Linked DNA regions of Homo sapiens: region 1 is linked to region 2. A link means that fine-mapping ties the variant in region 2 to the expression of a gene that starts in the linked region. Tissue or cell type: blood mononuclear cells. Region 2 holds a variant in brackets; the other region holds the start of a gene. All regions are shown on one strand. Distances are from middle to middle.

Region 1 (8,086 bases), 110 kb after region 2:
AAGGAAGGATTGGTGTTGTCCTCCAGCTCAACCCTGACCATTGGAGGTACAAGAGGCCATGTGGGTGACACCCACTGACAAGTGTCTCTTTTTTTTTTTTTTTTTTTTTGAGACAGAGTCTCCCTCTGTTGCCAGGCTGGAGTGCAGTGGCGCGATCTTGGCTCACTGCAACCTCCGCCTCCCAGGTTCAAGCTATTCTCCTGCCTCAGCCTCCCAAGTAGCTGGGACTACAGGCGCCCGCCACCATGCCTGGCTAATTTTTTGTATTTTTAGTAGAGACAGGGTTTCACCGTGTTAGCTAGGATGGTCTCAATCTCCTGACCTAATGATCTGCCCGCCCCAGCCTCCCAAAGTGCTGGGATTACAGGTGTGAGCCACCGCGCCCGGCCGACAAGTGTGTCTTTAAACAGGATGGTGTAGAAGGATGGGATTGGCTGCACACAGGACATTCTGCATGGTAGATGAGAAGACTTCAGGAAAAATGGCATTACAGTTGTCTGTGGCCCTTTCTTTCTTCCTGTGAACTATGACCCCTTTGGGGCAGCTCTGTGCCCAAATCCTTTCTGTACCCAGCCAGCATGAGGGCCAGCACAGAATGGGTTTGTTGAACTAAACTATGTGAAATAATCAAACCTCAAACTAGAAAAATATTATTTTGTTTTGTTTCCCAACATTTTAAATTAGGACTACAGAGATGAGTGACTCTTGCCTCTCCACTTCGTAGATGGGAAAACAGGCTCAGAGTGGGAAAAGCAACTCATCTAAGTTCATGGAGGAAGTCAGTGAGTGGAACCCAGGTTTTCCAATACCTGAACTTGTGCTGTTTTAGGGCGTGCAGGATATCAGGAAGTTTACAAAGACCCACTTTTTAACAGATCAACTACCTGCAAAAAACCCATATGCATGTGTTCTACCCCTACCTGAGGAGCCCTGTCCTGGGCCCACAATGGCATTCAGGGATAGTAGGGAGAGTCGATCCAGAGACCTGGAGGTGCAGGCAGAACTCTGGACCCATTTTCTGAGAGAATCAATGCCCTAAGAGGCCAGCAGCTTTTAAGTTGTGAGCTGTGTGCCAGCTCTGTACCAGGCTGGCTAGGAACCCCACCTTGAAGCCCCACCAGATCTGGGGCCTAGATGCTCTGGGAAAATACATTCTTTTATTTAAGAAGCAGCTTTATTGAGGCATAGCTTACATTCCATAAAATTCACCCATTTTAAATGTATAGTTAGATTATTTTAGTAAATTTATAGAGTTGCACAACTACCACCACAATCCAGTTTTAGAACACTCCCCAAAAAGTTTCCTCATGCCCCTTTGCAGTCAATCTCTGCTTCTGTTTTCTGTCTCTGTGGTTCTGCCTTTACAGAAATCTCATATATAGGGACTCTTACAATGTATTGCTTTTTAATGTCTGGCTTCTTTTACTTAGCTTAATGGTATTAAGGTTTATCCATGTTGTTGTAGCATTGATCAATACTTCATTCCTTTTTATTGCTGAGTAGTATTCCATTAAATGGATACACCTCATTTGTTTATCTATTCACCAGCTAATGGTGAATTTAACTTTATTTCCAGTTTTGGTCATTATAAATAATGCTGCTATGAACATACATATGAGTTTTTGGGTGGCCATATGCTTTCCTTTCCCTTAAGTAGATACTTAGGAGTGGAAGTTCTAGATTGTAGGGTAAGTATATATTTAACATTTTAAGAAACTGCCAAATCGTTGGGAACATGTATTTCCGCTCATAACAGCCCACTTACAAACATGCTTTCAGAAGCCACCCCACTTAAGCATACAGCATAGTGGTTACAAGTACAGATTCTGGAGTCAGACCCTCTGGGCTCAAATTGTGCTTATATTACTGAAGGCTACATGCCCTTGGGCAAAAGACTGTGCCTCAGTTTCCTCATCTGTAAAAGGGGATAAGACATGGGGTTGTTGTGATGATTGACTGAGCTCATTCATGGCAGGGCACTTAAAACACTGCTGGTTCATAGTGCTATGAAGTCTTGGCAATTGTTTTTTATAGCCAGTTGGGCAGTGGTCCTATGGAAGGAACAGCACCAGCCCAGAAGTTCACAGACGTGAGAGGGCTATTATGGATCTACCCAGTTACAGTCATGCGGCCTTGAGGAAGTCACATCCCCTCTGTAAGACAGAGCCCAATTTACTTCTCAGCACTGCTGGGTGGTGATTCCAGGGACGTGGTGAAGGTGACATTGTGCTTTGAAGACTGCACAATGCCATGCAATGGACTCATGTTACAATTGTGACATTCAGATTGTGGGGCTCATTGGAGACCATGGAACCCCTAAAGCCTTCTCCATCCGTGAAGCTCTTCTAACTACACACTAGGATGGTTAAGAGCAAGGACTCTGGAGTCAGACTGTCTGGTTCAAATCCCACCCCAGCCACTTAGAAGTCTTGTGACTTTGGACCTCTGTTTCTTCATCTGAAAAACAGAGATAGTAACTGTTCTCAGTCCTCACCTCCTGGAGTGGTTGTAAGGATTGGATGAATGAAATATGAACATGTTCACACCTCCACCTGGATATACAAAGTGTTTTATAAGTATTAGGGATATTAAATTGCATTACAAATGCAGTTTGCAGGAGGATAGTTTACATTTTTAGGAATCGTTTCACATCCCCAAAGGGGCACTGAAAACCCATCAGTTGCAAATGGCCCTCCTTAGACCGTTCTCAGCTCCTGAAGGTTTGCTGGCCCTCCCTTTTTACATTATAAATGGGAATAGGGCTTCCTTTGTGTTAGAAACAACAGCCCTGACACTGAGGGATCCCAGAGACACACACAGGAGGAGAAAGAAACACCAAAGTTCCTATCCCCAGATCCATCTTCCTTTTGGGAAACTGGAAGTTGCAGCAAAGTTCACAAAAGACCATGGAACCCAAAGTTGGCCTCTGCCACTGAGTTGGCAGGGCCCTATATCATATGCAAAATTGCAACTTTCTGACATGAGCCATGGGGCTGAGAAGCTAAAACTATACTCCAGCTGCCCTTTGATCTGCAATAAATGCCAGGCTGGACACTCTGGCAGGAAAAGCTATCATCGGATTTGGGTCTTGTTGCCCAGGAGACAATGGGCTGTCTTGGGCTTCTTCAGGCAAACAAAGAGTTAACCAAGGCCACCTTCTCAATCCCGTTTCCTTTGGGCCGACTAGAGGTTGTTTCCTAGACTTTCTGTTCCCTTATTCAATTGAAGATGTGTACTAATCCCCCAAATTCAAAGGGGAGGGGGTCAGAAGCTATAGAAAGCATGGCTCTTCTGCAAAACTGCATGGAGAAAGAGCTGAGCAAGGGCAAGAGCCTACAGACCTGGATTCAAGTCCTGGCTTTTGGACTGGCCACTTTCTAAGCTTCTCTCAACCTCAATGTTATAAAAATACCTGCATTGCGATGGGATTAATAGAAGCCCAAACCTCAGCACCGTGCAATATACCCTTGTAAAAAACCACACATGACCACTCCCTGAATCTAAAATAAAAATAAAAATACTTGCATTGCTTTCCAACACATAGTTACTGCAAGAATCAAGCAGTAATTTCTATCACTTATTTTGTGCCTAGTATATACTGGAATCATGGGAAGCACATTATTTCTAATTTCTCTAATATTCACAACATTTCTAGGAAGGTAAAATGGTCTAATTAATCGCCTTTTTCAGATGGGGAAACTGAGGCACAGAGCGATGAAATCCATTGCCCAAGATCACTCAGCCAGCCACAGTTCAAACCCAGGCAGTCTGACCTTAACCGAGGCCCATTTTAACTTAGGTCTACTTTAACTTATATCTTACTATTCAGCCAACCGCCTGAGTTCTGCTGGAGAAACTGAGGCCCGGGGAACGGAAGGGATCAGATCTCTGGCTTCCAGGCCACAGCTCTTTCCACCACCGGTGGAGCCACTGCCCATGATAGACGTGACCGCTTAGGTAACTCAGAGCTGGGTTAAGCAACCGAGCAATTCAGTTCCGTTATTTCTTGAGCAGCAAAAGCCCCAGATGTCCCTCCCGGTGTTCATGCTTCGCACCTGTGTGCGGAGAGGCACCAGACCTGCCCTTACCAGAAGCCAGCCAGCACGCACAACCTAAGCTGCTGGCGCTGGGTGCGCTGAGGCTGTTGGCGCTGGCGCTGGCGCTGTTTCTGAAGTCCCTCTCTGCCTAAGATTGGAGGCTCCGCACCCAGCTCAGACATCTCGGGTGCCCAGACAACGCTCCAACCGCCCCAGCTGCCCAGGGATCCCATTCACAGCTATAACCCCTGCACTGCCAGGAGGTAGCCGCCCGCGGGACCGCCAGTGCGCACTGAGTGGCAAGACTCCCTTTTATGTCCAGGAATGAGGCACGCATCGCAGCCGCGTCCGCCGCCAAAACCGACTTCCCCCACGGGCGCGGAGGCAGCCGGTGCCACCCTCCGACCGGGTTGCTTACCTGTCGCACCGCGGGTCTGGGTGACAGCAGGGAGGGGCGTGGAGACCGAGAGCAGCATCAGCAGACACCAGCACTGCCCGTTGTTCCTCCTGCAAGATGTGCCCGAGGGAGAAAAGGTGAGGCGGGCAAGAGTATTGGAGGGGCCCGGGACGCGAGGAAGCAGAGAAGCGGGTCTTACCTTGGTGCCATCTCGCGGGTCTGCGGAGCCCCGGAAGGCGCGCGGCTAGTCGAGCAGAGCGTTGGAGCTTAGCGGAGGACGAAGGGTCGCTGAGCGCTGGCCGCCGCGCTCGCCCTTCCTGCAGGGAACAAAGGCGGCGCTCGGCAGCGGCGGCGGCGGGCAGAATCCCGGCTCCCGGCCCGCGCCCCGAGTCACCCGCGCTCTGAAACCCGACTCCGCCGCGCCCTGCGCTCCCCCGCGCGCTGCGCACTCACGCCCGGGGGATACCGGCCGCCCCGGCCGCCTCCCCACGCCCCTTTCCCCCTCGACGGACGTGCGCTCGCCTCTGCTGCCTCCACCCGCGGCTGCCTTATGTAACCTGCGAGGAAAGCCCCGCGCCCGCGTTCGTTGGGGCAAGCGGGATGGGCTCCCTCCCGCCCTTAAGTCTGTCCTGTCGGGGCTGACCCGCAAGAAAGCACTCTTTCACAGCCGCTGAGGGAATCCTCTCCACAGCCCAGGAAGGCTGGAATCAGTGATTTCCTTATATGATGGACAAGGAGACTGAGGCTCAGAGAGGTGGAGCGTATGTCCCAAAGTCCCAAGCTGCACTGAGCTCCTAGATGCTGTGACCCACCCTGCACGCCTGACACATGGACCGACTTGAATGCCCAGGAGTGGACCTGCCTGGGGGCCATAAGGGATACATACAACTAAATGCAGCAGAGATAATCCTAATAAAAGTTTTTAATGTACTGGATTCCAGGGCTTTCCTCCCTATGTATACCTTGCCTGCCCCCTTCATCAGAATGTAAGCTCCAGGAGGGCTTATCTGTGCTTTGTTCCCTGCCTAAAACAGCTCAGGTAGTAGGAGATGCCAATAAACGCTGGATGAATGAAGGAGCACAGTCTTGGGTGAGGCATCACACCAGGCCCTGTGATGAGATGTGGGGGTCATGAACCAGGCTCTGCCTCCGAAAGCCCTCAGTGGGAGTGAGGCGGTTCAGGGCAGACTAACCCATCTGTGCAGAGCTTATCGCAGGGCACTGGGTAAACCCTCAATGGTCGCTTTTTATTAAGATTACCACCCGGCACATAGTGTGAGATCTTGGAGTGAGAAGAGGCACCGCTGAAGTTGGCTGAGACCTGGACAGCTCTGAAGCCAGGTAAACACTAGAAACCTCTCTTCCTGAAGCACCAAGTAGCCACAGTGGGCCGTGGCTCTGTGGTCAGTTCCTGTGTTTGATTCAGTTCCACTCTAGAGGATGGGTCACCTCTTGCCAAGTGAGTTAGCCTTGCAGAGGAGATGGCATGGGAATGGATATAAGCAACTAATGCTTACTTGGTGTGGATTATGTCCCAAGCCCTCTGCTAAATGCTTTAGCTGTGTTATCTCATTTAATACCCACAACAGCCATGGAAAGGTGATACTGTCATGATCCCCATTTCATAGATAAGAAAGCTGAGGTTCAAAACATTCCAAGGCTAATGAATGGCAGATGCAACACCCATGCTCCTCCCCACTCAGCCATGCTGCCTGCCAGTAAGCAAGAAGATTAGACTCACTCTCCACCCTCAAGAGCAAAATCGCAGTGGAGACACAGAGCACTCGGATATGAAAGGGTTCATGCCAGCCTGGGCGGTGAGGGCTCAGAGGAGGGATGGTTGGCCTGGAGATCAGGAGTCTGGGTTCCAGTCCAATGCTGGCCCTGGCTGCAGGGTGAAGTTGGGCAAATCTTGCCCTTGGTCTGATTTTTTATTTCTCCACCTGGATAATGGACACAACTACCTTGAATTGAATGGTGGCTGTGAGTCCCTTGATGGGACCACCTACTGGTACACCACAGTGCTCTCTGTCCATTGGATTTTGGCTTCTATTATTAGAGGTTGTGGATATTCTCATCGGGGCTGCGGCCTGTGGAGGGGGACAACTGGCAAGACAGAGGGGGGACCCTAGATCAACCTCTTAAGGGATTGAGGCTCCAGTAGCCAAAGCAGCTCGAGAACCAGGTTGGCCTCATGTGGAGCTAACACATAAGGCGAACTGCATCCCGACAAAATTGTCCACTTGAGGCCTCTTTCCTAATCTGTTCACATTCCCTGTGAATGTAAATTCTCTCCCACTTGCAGCCACTCTGTGATGGGCCTAACCTTATTTTATTTTGATTCACTAACCATAGGGAATTTGCTTTCATAATTCTATATTTCTCTATTGTTTGTAAAGTACCACATTAACTAGGAATATAATTGACTTTCTTAGAACTATATTTCTATACTGCTTAGAAAAACCACATCAGTTATGGCTACATAGTAGATCTAGGGTTCTGTTTGACAGTTTTAAAACCAGAGATTGTGAACTGGCAGCCATAGGCTCAATTTTGTTTCATTTTTGATTTTGGTTTTTGTTTTTGTTTGAGATGGAGTGTCGCTCTGTCACCCAGGATGGAGTGCCGCTCTGTCACCCAGGATGGAGTGCAATGGTGGCTCACTGCAACTTCCGCCTCCCGGGTTCAAGTGATTCTCCTCTTCAGCCTTCCAAGTAGCTGGGACTATAGGCGCCCATCACCACACTCGGCTAATTTTTGTATTTTTAGTAGAGACGGGGTTTCACCATGTTGGCCAGGCTGGTCTCAAACTCCTGACCTCAAGTTGATCCACCCATCTCAGCCTTCTAAAGTGCTGGGATTAAAGGCATAAGCCACCATGCCCAGCCTTCAATTTTGCCCATAGATATGTTTTATCTGGTCTGCTGGGTGTCAACCTCCAAATTAAATTGGCTAGCAATATTTGATAATTAGAGAATTGCACAGTAAAATTGAGACTTCTGGATTCTTTTTGAAATTTTGGAAAACCTGGCGACATAAGGCCTGCATTCTCTGTGCCAACAATTGATTGGCATTGAATAGGGGCTGCTGCCTTCAGCTAAGGCAGTACTGTCCAGTTTGCCGTAGTTCCCACCACCCCATATTGTCCCCAAAACCAAAGCTAAGAATCAATTGCCCCTATCACAGTTGCACTCTGCCTTTGCATATAAGAAAAAATGGAATAGGTTGAATGCTCATGTTCCTGTTAAAAATGGGTAAACAGAAGATATATGGGGAGAAGAACATGTTTAAAGAAAGATGGGGAAAAACATATTTCTACTTGTTTAATATACAAATAAAGTGTGTACATTGAAAAAAATAAAAATGAAGGTGCCATTATGAAACAAACCTGGCCTCCTCAGTTACATATATAACATGAAGGGTGAAGACTTGATTGTGATCCAATTTATCAGTCCAAGATACATATGCATAAGGCAACAGATTCCTTTCTACTCTTGCAGGGAAGTCCTATGTGCACATTTCATATTTTGTTGGTTCTCTGTAACTGATGATACCCAATTCACTGGAATCTAAAAATGAAGTTTCCCAAAGCACACTTCTCATCTACAAATGACTGGAAATAGACTCGTGTTAAGGTTGTTGATTTTGCACC
Region 2 (8,105 bases):
AACCTAGCACTTGCTTTGCTGACTTCCACAGACTAAATGTCTCCCTTTTCTGCCTTGAACTCTACTCTTTTGCCTGTAATTTAATACTAGCAATTACAGGAATGCACAGCCCTTCCCCTTACCTCCCTCTATTCCATCTTCCCTTTGCCTCTCTCCCACCTGGCTCACTCCCGAACTCAGCTGTCCTTTGGGTCTTAGTTTGGAGGTAACCTCCTCCAGGTAGACGTCTCTGCCCTCCCTTATACCCCCAGCACCCTGTGCTTGGTTCACCCAAACAACTTACCACACTGTATTGTAATTCTCTGTTTTTTGTTTGCCTCTCTCACTAGTCTATAAGTATCATGATGGTAGGAACTGTGTACTAAGCATGAGACCTAGCACTTAGCAGATATACACTCAGTATTTGAAGATTAAATGTATAAATTGTACTTACAGCAGGCTTCTCATAATTGGCACTTGAAATAGGGTTTGGTGGAGGCAGAAGCTGATGTGGCTGTTATGAAAAGGAGGAAAAGAAACAGTTCTGAATATGCATTCAATCTGTTCTTCAGAGTGTATTGAGGTGCAAGTGCAATGTTTCTTGAGAAGATGCTTTAAATAATTTGCCATTGTCTGTAACTGTGACTCTTAACTGTAAAGAGTTTCATGACCTGCTGAAGAAATCATCTTCAGAAAGGGAGAAAATGTTCTCAAGAGTTTTAAAAAGAGCACTGAATCAAGGAAGGGCATTCTTTTTGATAAACCCATGTTTAATCACCAACTCTTTCACTTAATAGAGAAAGCTACCTCTTCAGAGCCTCAGTTTCATAATCTGCAAAACGGGGATGATAGTACCCACCTCAAAGCATTGCTCTAGGGCTAGAAGATGGACAATGCCAGTTGCCCATGTTCTTATGAGGCAGATGGTGCCAAAAATTAAAGGAATCTTCTAGATTGCTTATACCAACCAATGATTCCACAGATGAACAAACTGAGGCCAAGATAGAGGAAGCCCTCTGCCCAAGAAGATTTGGCTACTACATGGGAACAGCAGGTCTCCAGCCTCTGGATCTAGTTATTCCTCCGCTCTACTGTGGGAACCTCCTGTTAGCACCCATTAATTTCTAGGATTTCACCAGATACTAAACCGTGCACAGCTGACTGTCCAGAGTTTGGAGAGCTTGGTGCTAGATACCAAGGAGGACTCAGGAAATGCTGATAAATGAATGCATGAGCAGTCCAACAGGGTAACTACTCACGTTGCTGGAAAGCGCAGGGGGTGGAGGGCTGTCGGCAGGAATGGGGATCAGTTCTCCCAGCTTTAAGAAAAACAGTACATTGAAATGAAAGATCAATTACAAACTTCTCCCATTTCAAAACAGAAAAAAATGGCATTTATGGGAGTAGATTATTATTTTTAGAGGGTATTTGAAGGCAGTGTGTTAAAGGAAGTTTAGAAATTACCTGTAATTTTTTCCAGCCATCTCTAACACGAATGAAAAACTCAGTGCTGTCCCTCAGGTAGATGAATGTTCCTTCTATAACCAAATGCGCTTTCTGCAGCATGTCATCCATGTTGCTGAATGCTGTGACCTGTCAGATCATTTAAATTCCAAACACTGCCATTATCATTAGAGGAATGGCACCATCTGATAACCTGGCCTCTCTGTAAAGTCAACTAGGAGCCGTCCCCAGATACTCAATAAAGAGGCTTGTTAATGTGCCAGATAGAGGTATATACCTTCATTAGTAACTAAAGGGCATTCTTCTTGATAAAACAAAAACATGTATACTTTGAAACACAAATCTAACTTATAATAAATGAATTAAAACAAAAATGACAATATTATGTGAGTATAAAGACATTTACAAATTGTCAATGGAGTTATCTTTGTTTTGGTTTGGGTATTAGCAAAAGCACTGGTAAGTTTTACCACTTCTATTTTTTTAAGCTACTTGGTGGCACTAACATGGTTAAATGGTGTTACTTCATGCTGGTCCTTGAAGAGTTTCAAATTTTTCATTTGGAATAAGAAAGGCAAGCAAGTGAGCAACTATACTTAAGGTCTTAAATCTTTTTTGTCTAGCTTGGTAGTTACATTAAATGCATGATAGAAAATGGAGGTCTGTAATTTCTCTGCCTAGAAAAGTGCCAAAGATTAGACAGCCATTTGGCATATCTAGAAGCACATACAGAAGCTACAAAAATCTATTGAATAGCATCAAATCTCAAAGAAATAACGGCCAAGAGAGTTTTTATTTTTCATTGTAACTGAGAAAGATTATAAAATATTAATTTTCACCTAGCCTTGAAGATAATGGCTTTGTGCATCAAAATGACTTAGATATCCCCAAGGGAACCAAATATCAGAATTCCATCATATGTAGGACAGTTCTTTCTTTTGGCAGCCAAATTTTGCAACTAACATCCAGCAAAGATCAAAGAGCATTTTTGGACTCCTGACATCCTTGTGAAGTATTTGTCCATTTTTCTGTGCATTACAGTAATCTTGGAGTGCTATGTCTTGTTCCAACGAACTGCAGGGTAACGAATGTGCCAGAGATGTTCTTTGGCAGAATGGAGAAGACTGAATTATCCAAGTAAATCTGACCAGCACAAGGACCTGTTGTAACATTGTTTATGCTCTTGGGCTTTTGTTGTTTTGTTTTTTCTTTTTTTTCTAGAGATGGGGTATTGCTTTTTCACCCAGGCTGGAGTGCAGTGGCACAGTCATGGTTCACTGGAGCCTCGACTTCCCAGGCTCAAGTGATCCTTAGCTTCTCAAGTAGCTGGGACTACAGATATGCACCACCACACCCAGTTAATTTTTACATTTTTCTGTAGAGGCAGGATCTCACTATGTTGCCCAGGCTAGTCTTGAACTCCTAGACTCAAGTGATTCTCCTGCTTCAGCCTCTCAAAGTGCTGGGATTACAGGAGTGAGCCACCGCACCCGAGCAGGTTTATGCTTTTTGAAATACTATTATTGGTGGCCAGGCGTGGTGGCTCGTGTCTGTACTCCCAGCACTTTGGGAGGCCAAGGTGGGAGAATCACCTTGGTGGCCCATGAGTTCAAGGCCAGCCTGGGCAATGTAACAAAAACCCTGTCTCTACAAAAAAAAAAAAAAAAAAATTAGCCAGGTGTGGTAGTGTGCATCTGTAGTCCCAGCTACTCTGGAGGCTGAGATGAGAGGATTACCTGAGCTCAGGGAGGTTGAGGCTGCAGTGAGCCGTGATCTCACCACTGTACTCCAGTTTGGGTGACAGAGTGAGACCCCGTCCACCCCTCATCCAGCAAAAAAAAAATATATATATATATATATATATAAAAATATATAAGTAATATGATTGGTTCTTGTTATAACTTAGTCAATTAAGGATTCGAATGGTGGAACTTACATATACATGATTTTGTTTTTTCACGTCTTTTTACTTAATAAGTCATCCAAATAGATAACAAATCCCTTCTACTATTTATGGAATTGCACCAAGCCTACTATCATGAAGGCCTGATCCCCAAGGGATGTCAGACACAGGAGATCGTAGGCAGAGTTTTAAGTATATCTATCCCAAATGGAATGATGACTACACACTGATGATAATACTGACCAGGTTTCTGGATCC[G/A]GGAAGCCCTGGCTGTCCTGGAGGGCCAGGGGGACCTGGAAGGGCCACAGCTAAGACAAAACAGAAAAGAGAAGTTACACAAAAACCACACTCTGAAAAATGTCTGAGGTATCAGCTGACTCCCGGAGAGAAGTGTGTTCAACCCCATTCACAGCGCCACAAAGCATCCCAACTTCCACCTGTATCTTGGGTGCTGTGCCCCCAGCGTGTGACTTAGGCCACATTGACTGGTTCAGGGAAGAGCTGGGATTCTTGATTGTTACCCTGGATGAAGCCATGGCTAGTGCTTTTCCGTTTCATAAGTGAATCAATTCCTTTTGTGGTTGTTTTATAAAAGCCAGCTTAAGTTGAATATTTTGTCACTTGCATTCAAAAATGTCCTGACTCATATAACTTATTTCACCCAAGAGACAAGCATGTGACACTGAACAGAGGAAGCAGGCTCAGAAAGAGGAAGAGAAGGCTCTAGGGAGTGGGAGGAGACCAGGGTGGTGCAGTGACAGTAGCCCTGGCCTTGGGGCCAGAGACATGGACTCAAGTCCTTAAGTTTGTCCATTCCTAGCTGTGTGATCTCGAGGAAACAGCAAGCTCTCCAAAGCTGTTTCCTCATCTGCAAAATGTAAAATAGGCATTTCTTCTTCCCTGGGCTGCGGTGAGAACTGAGTGCTTTGAAAATTGTACATGTACAGCATTCATCCGGCCAGGAGCTCTTAGCTTTTGAAGAGTCACAGTGCCCTTAAAAATCAGATCAAGGTTAGTGCCCTCTTTCCCAGAGAAATGCACACATAATTCTATAAAAAAATATTACTGGGATGACAAATCCTGGAGGTATATCCTTGAACTCTCTAGGAGTCTATGATTCCTCAACTGAAAAGCCCTTACTTTAGGCAAACATAAAGTAGTATAATTACAACTATTCCTTTGGCTGTTCTTCTACCTCTCTCATCCTCTGCTCACCCTACCCCCGACAACTCCTCCAAATCTGCCAAGCTCTTGGCAGAATTAAGGGTGTTTTTACAAGCCCCAGTAAAATTATACAGTCCTTCAGGTCGTTGCAAGCAAATGTTCAGTTCCAACATAGGACTTGAACACCCACACACAGGTGGCAAATGTCTAGTGGATAGAGGGCCAGTGGACTCGGATTTGGATCCCAGCCATGCCTCCTAATAGAATTTGTGACCTCAAGTAAGTCTCTTCACCTCTGTGAGCTTCAGTGTCTTCATCCGTGAGATGAATTTTATAATAATATCTGTTTTATCTTCCTCCCAGGGTTGCTGTGAAGACTACATGGGATAATGGCCATGAAAGTGTTTTGTAAACTGAATTGCTATACATTATGTGAGAAGCAATCCTTGCTCAATGCAGCAAGGCATCCCGGCAGCCCTAATGTAGTGTTGCTGTGGACAACAGTTTTTCTCCACCTTGCACTCACCCTGTAATATGCCTCCACCTCCTGTAGTCCTACTCCTCCCTCATGGCTGTGTGGGCACCTGTGGTTCCATACACTCGGCACCTTCTTCCTTTGTAGGACCAGTGTCCTCATCTCCTTCTCTTGGGACCTTCCCTTCACCTCTACAACCATTTGGTTCCAGAAAGAGCTACCATGTTCTCATGTGATCCGACCTCCTGGTCATAGGTGATTTGTCCAAGATTGGGTACCTCACCCAAGTCAGGCCCATCAGGACCCTTCTCTAGGACTTCCCCATCCCAGGACTTTTCAAACTAAAATAGTAAAAGAAGTTCAAGATTTCTAGCTGACAGTGGAAGCTGTAAGTTGTCAGTAACCATATTTCCCGCTGTGCAGAGGATGTGGTTTGTGGTGAGGAAGCGTGAAACTGCATGCAGAGAGAAGCCGAGACAAGAGATGGCCAGAGAATCCTTGCAGGGGTTGAGTCCCTGGCTCTGGCTGTTCCTGAGGTCCAGCTGTTTATCTACCTCTCCCACAAGTTGACTGTTCACTCCCTCCTTCACACCCAGTACATTTCCCCTTTGCTTGAGCTACTTTGAGTTACGTTTCTATCACTTGCAGCCAAAAGATCCAAGGCTAAGTCAAAGCCCCAGCCCCAAAGTCACCTCCTGTGTAAAGCTCTCCTTATGCCAAGGACTCTGTAGGTCTCTTTCCAGGTATGCTTCCACCATACCTGGCTCCTGCCAAGCCAAACAACAAAAAAGTATGCCTTCATGCTATTATTGCTGCTATTATTGTCTCCTCCAATGGACATAGTAGAAATAACACAGGCTTTGGAGCTACACTGCTCTGGGTCTGAATCCTGTTGGTGTCACTTATTAGCTGTGTGACCTTGGAAAGGTTCCTAAATGTCTCTGGGCCTCACTTTCCTTACCTGTACAATGGGGATGTTAATGCTTTTTTTAAAGTGTTGTTGTGAGGTTTCAATAAAATACCATAGCAAAGTGATTAGCAAAATGCCTGGCATCTGATACATGCTCATTACATAGAGATTTTCTTTAATTTTGCCAGTTTTGCATATGAGGAGGTGAGGCTCTAAAGGATGAATAGATTTTTATATACAGAGTTCCAGTCACTGCTGGTCATTAAGACAGGTTCTCACGCCCCTAAGGCATTGACAAAGCAGCCAGGAAGTTTCCACTCACATGTGAAAAGATGCTCAACATCATTAGTCATTAGGGAAATGCAAACCAAAACCACAGTGAGATATCACTTCATACCAAGTAGGATGGCTATAATCAAAAAGATACAATGAGGATACCATAATATGGGAGGAGAAATTGGAACCCCCTCATACACTGCCACTGCTGATGGGAATGAGAAATGTTGTGACTCCTTCGGAAAACAGTCTGGCAGTTCCTCAAAAAGTTAAACATAGAGTTACCATATGACCCAGCAATTTCTCCTACGTATATACTGAAGAGAACGGAAAACATGTTCACATAAAAACTTGTACACGAAAGTTCATAGTAGCATTATTCATAATAGCCAAAAAGTAGAAACAACCCAAATGTCCATGAACAGATTAATGAATAAACAAAATGTATATCCTATACAATGCAATATTATTTGGCCACAGTAAGGAATGAACTCCGTGCTGCAACATGGGTGAACCTTGAAAACACTGTGTTAAGTGAAAGAAGCCAGACTCAAAGGGCCATATATTATATGATTCCATTTATATGAAATGTCCAGAATAGGCAAATCTGGAGACAGAAGTAGATTCATGGTTGCCCAGATCTGGTGGAGGAGAGGGAAAGAGAGAAAAGAGAACAACTGCTAATTGGTATGAAATTTCTTTTTGGTGTGATGAAAATGGTCTAGAATTAGACAGTGGTGATGACTGCATAACTTCATGAATATATTAAAAACTACTGGATTAGACACTTTAGGTGGGTGAATTTTATGATGTGCAAATTGTATCTCAATTAAAAAAAAAAGAAAGAAGGCGGTATCCAGGAAAGCCCTCTGTTAGGCAGTGCAGCTGTGACAAGCCACCCAGATGCTGTGACCTTGAACACAATGGTAGGGACAGCATGAACAAGGGCACTGTTTACGGCACTAACCTGCTCCCAGGATAGCTGGAGGTCCTGGTGGCCCCGGGGGCCCCGGTGGCCCAGGATCACCAGGTCTTCCAAAGCCAGGTGGCCCAGGCAGACCAGGAGCACCTGGGGGTCCTTGGGGCCCAACGACTGTCTCCCCTTTTTGGCCCTGTCAAGGCAAGCACACAATAACAGAGAGAAAGCATCATTCATCACTCGAAGTCCCATCTAGTCCTTTTATGAGAATATTTAAAAGAAATCAATAAACACCAGCTATTGTTATTACTATCCTCAATCTTGGGCACAATTCAAGGTGGGGTAAGGCCTCCAAGATGGCAGCCCAGTCATTATGTTGAATGATTCTACAGAGAACCCCAGAGACTCCTGGAGGCAGAAGGGACCTTGGAGATCATCTAGTCTAGCCTTTGCATTTCACAGATGGAGACACTGAAGCCCAGAGAAGTGAAAGGACTTGCCCAAGATCATGAAGCAAATTAGATGCAGAGCTAGAGGCAGAACTCTGATCTCTGGCTTTGCTGGTTCTACCCTCACAGTGAGCTCTGGGACCAAAGGTCAATGATCTAGTCATATTCTTGTTGGGGGCACAGCTTGACTTTCTCTCCTTTCACCTGGAAAAATCTCTCATCCTAGGAAAACCACACCTATCTAGGAGCTCCTTTGATAAAATTTCAGAAGAATCAAACAGCTCCTCTAAAAATATCTCCTTACCTTCCATTCTGCTTCTGTTATCTGATGCATTCACCATTAATCATTCTTTGTGTGGAGTGAATTTTCCACCAATGTCATGAATAAGGCAGTGTGACTAATGGCCTGGAAGTTACCTACCTTCATGTGGCCTTGACCAGCTACCTTCTCTCCAGGGACCTCAGCCAACCTGCCCATCAATCAACAAGGATGGGGAAAGAGCTGGCTAATCCCCAAGCTCTGCCTCCAGCTTATAGTACAATGACTAGCCCTAACTGCCTAGTCC

What was found. PIP is the estimated chance that this variant, and not a neighbour inherited with it, causes the effect.
Region 1: COL15A1 starts here. The variant in region 2 is fine-mapped to the expression of COL15A1 in blood mononuclear cells (TOPMed, PIP above 0.99).

The regions. Positions count from the first base shown.
Region 1 is chr9:98,940,620-98,948,705 of GRCh38, reverse strand. COL15A1 (collagen type XV alpha 1 chain) reads right to left here and starts at 4,799. Exons shown (of 42, transcript NM_001855.5): 1 at 4,634-4,799; 2 at 4,456-4,544. The coding sequence starts at 4,644. COL15A1-AS1 (COL15A1 antisense RNA 1) reads left to right here and starts at 4,054. Exons shown (of 1, transcript NR_198999.1): 1 at 4,054-7,821.
Region 2 is chr9:99,055,438-99,063,542 of GRCh38, reverse strand. It overlaps COL15A1 (collagen type XV alpha 1 chain), which reads right to left. Exons shown (of 42, transcript NM_001855.5): 35 at 7,139-7,283; 36 at 3,590-3,654; 37 at 1,444-1,572; 38 at 1,239-1,298; 39 at 434-493. Among named protein-coding and RNA genes, the nearest start is that of TGFBR1, 46 kb to the left of the region's middle. The variant G/A (reference allele first, on the strand shown) is at 3,605.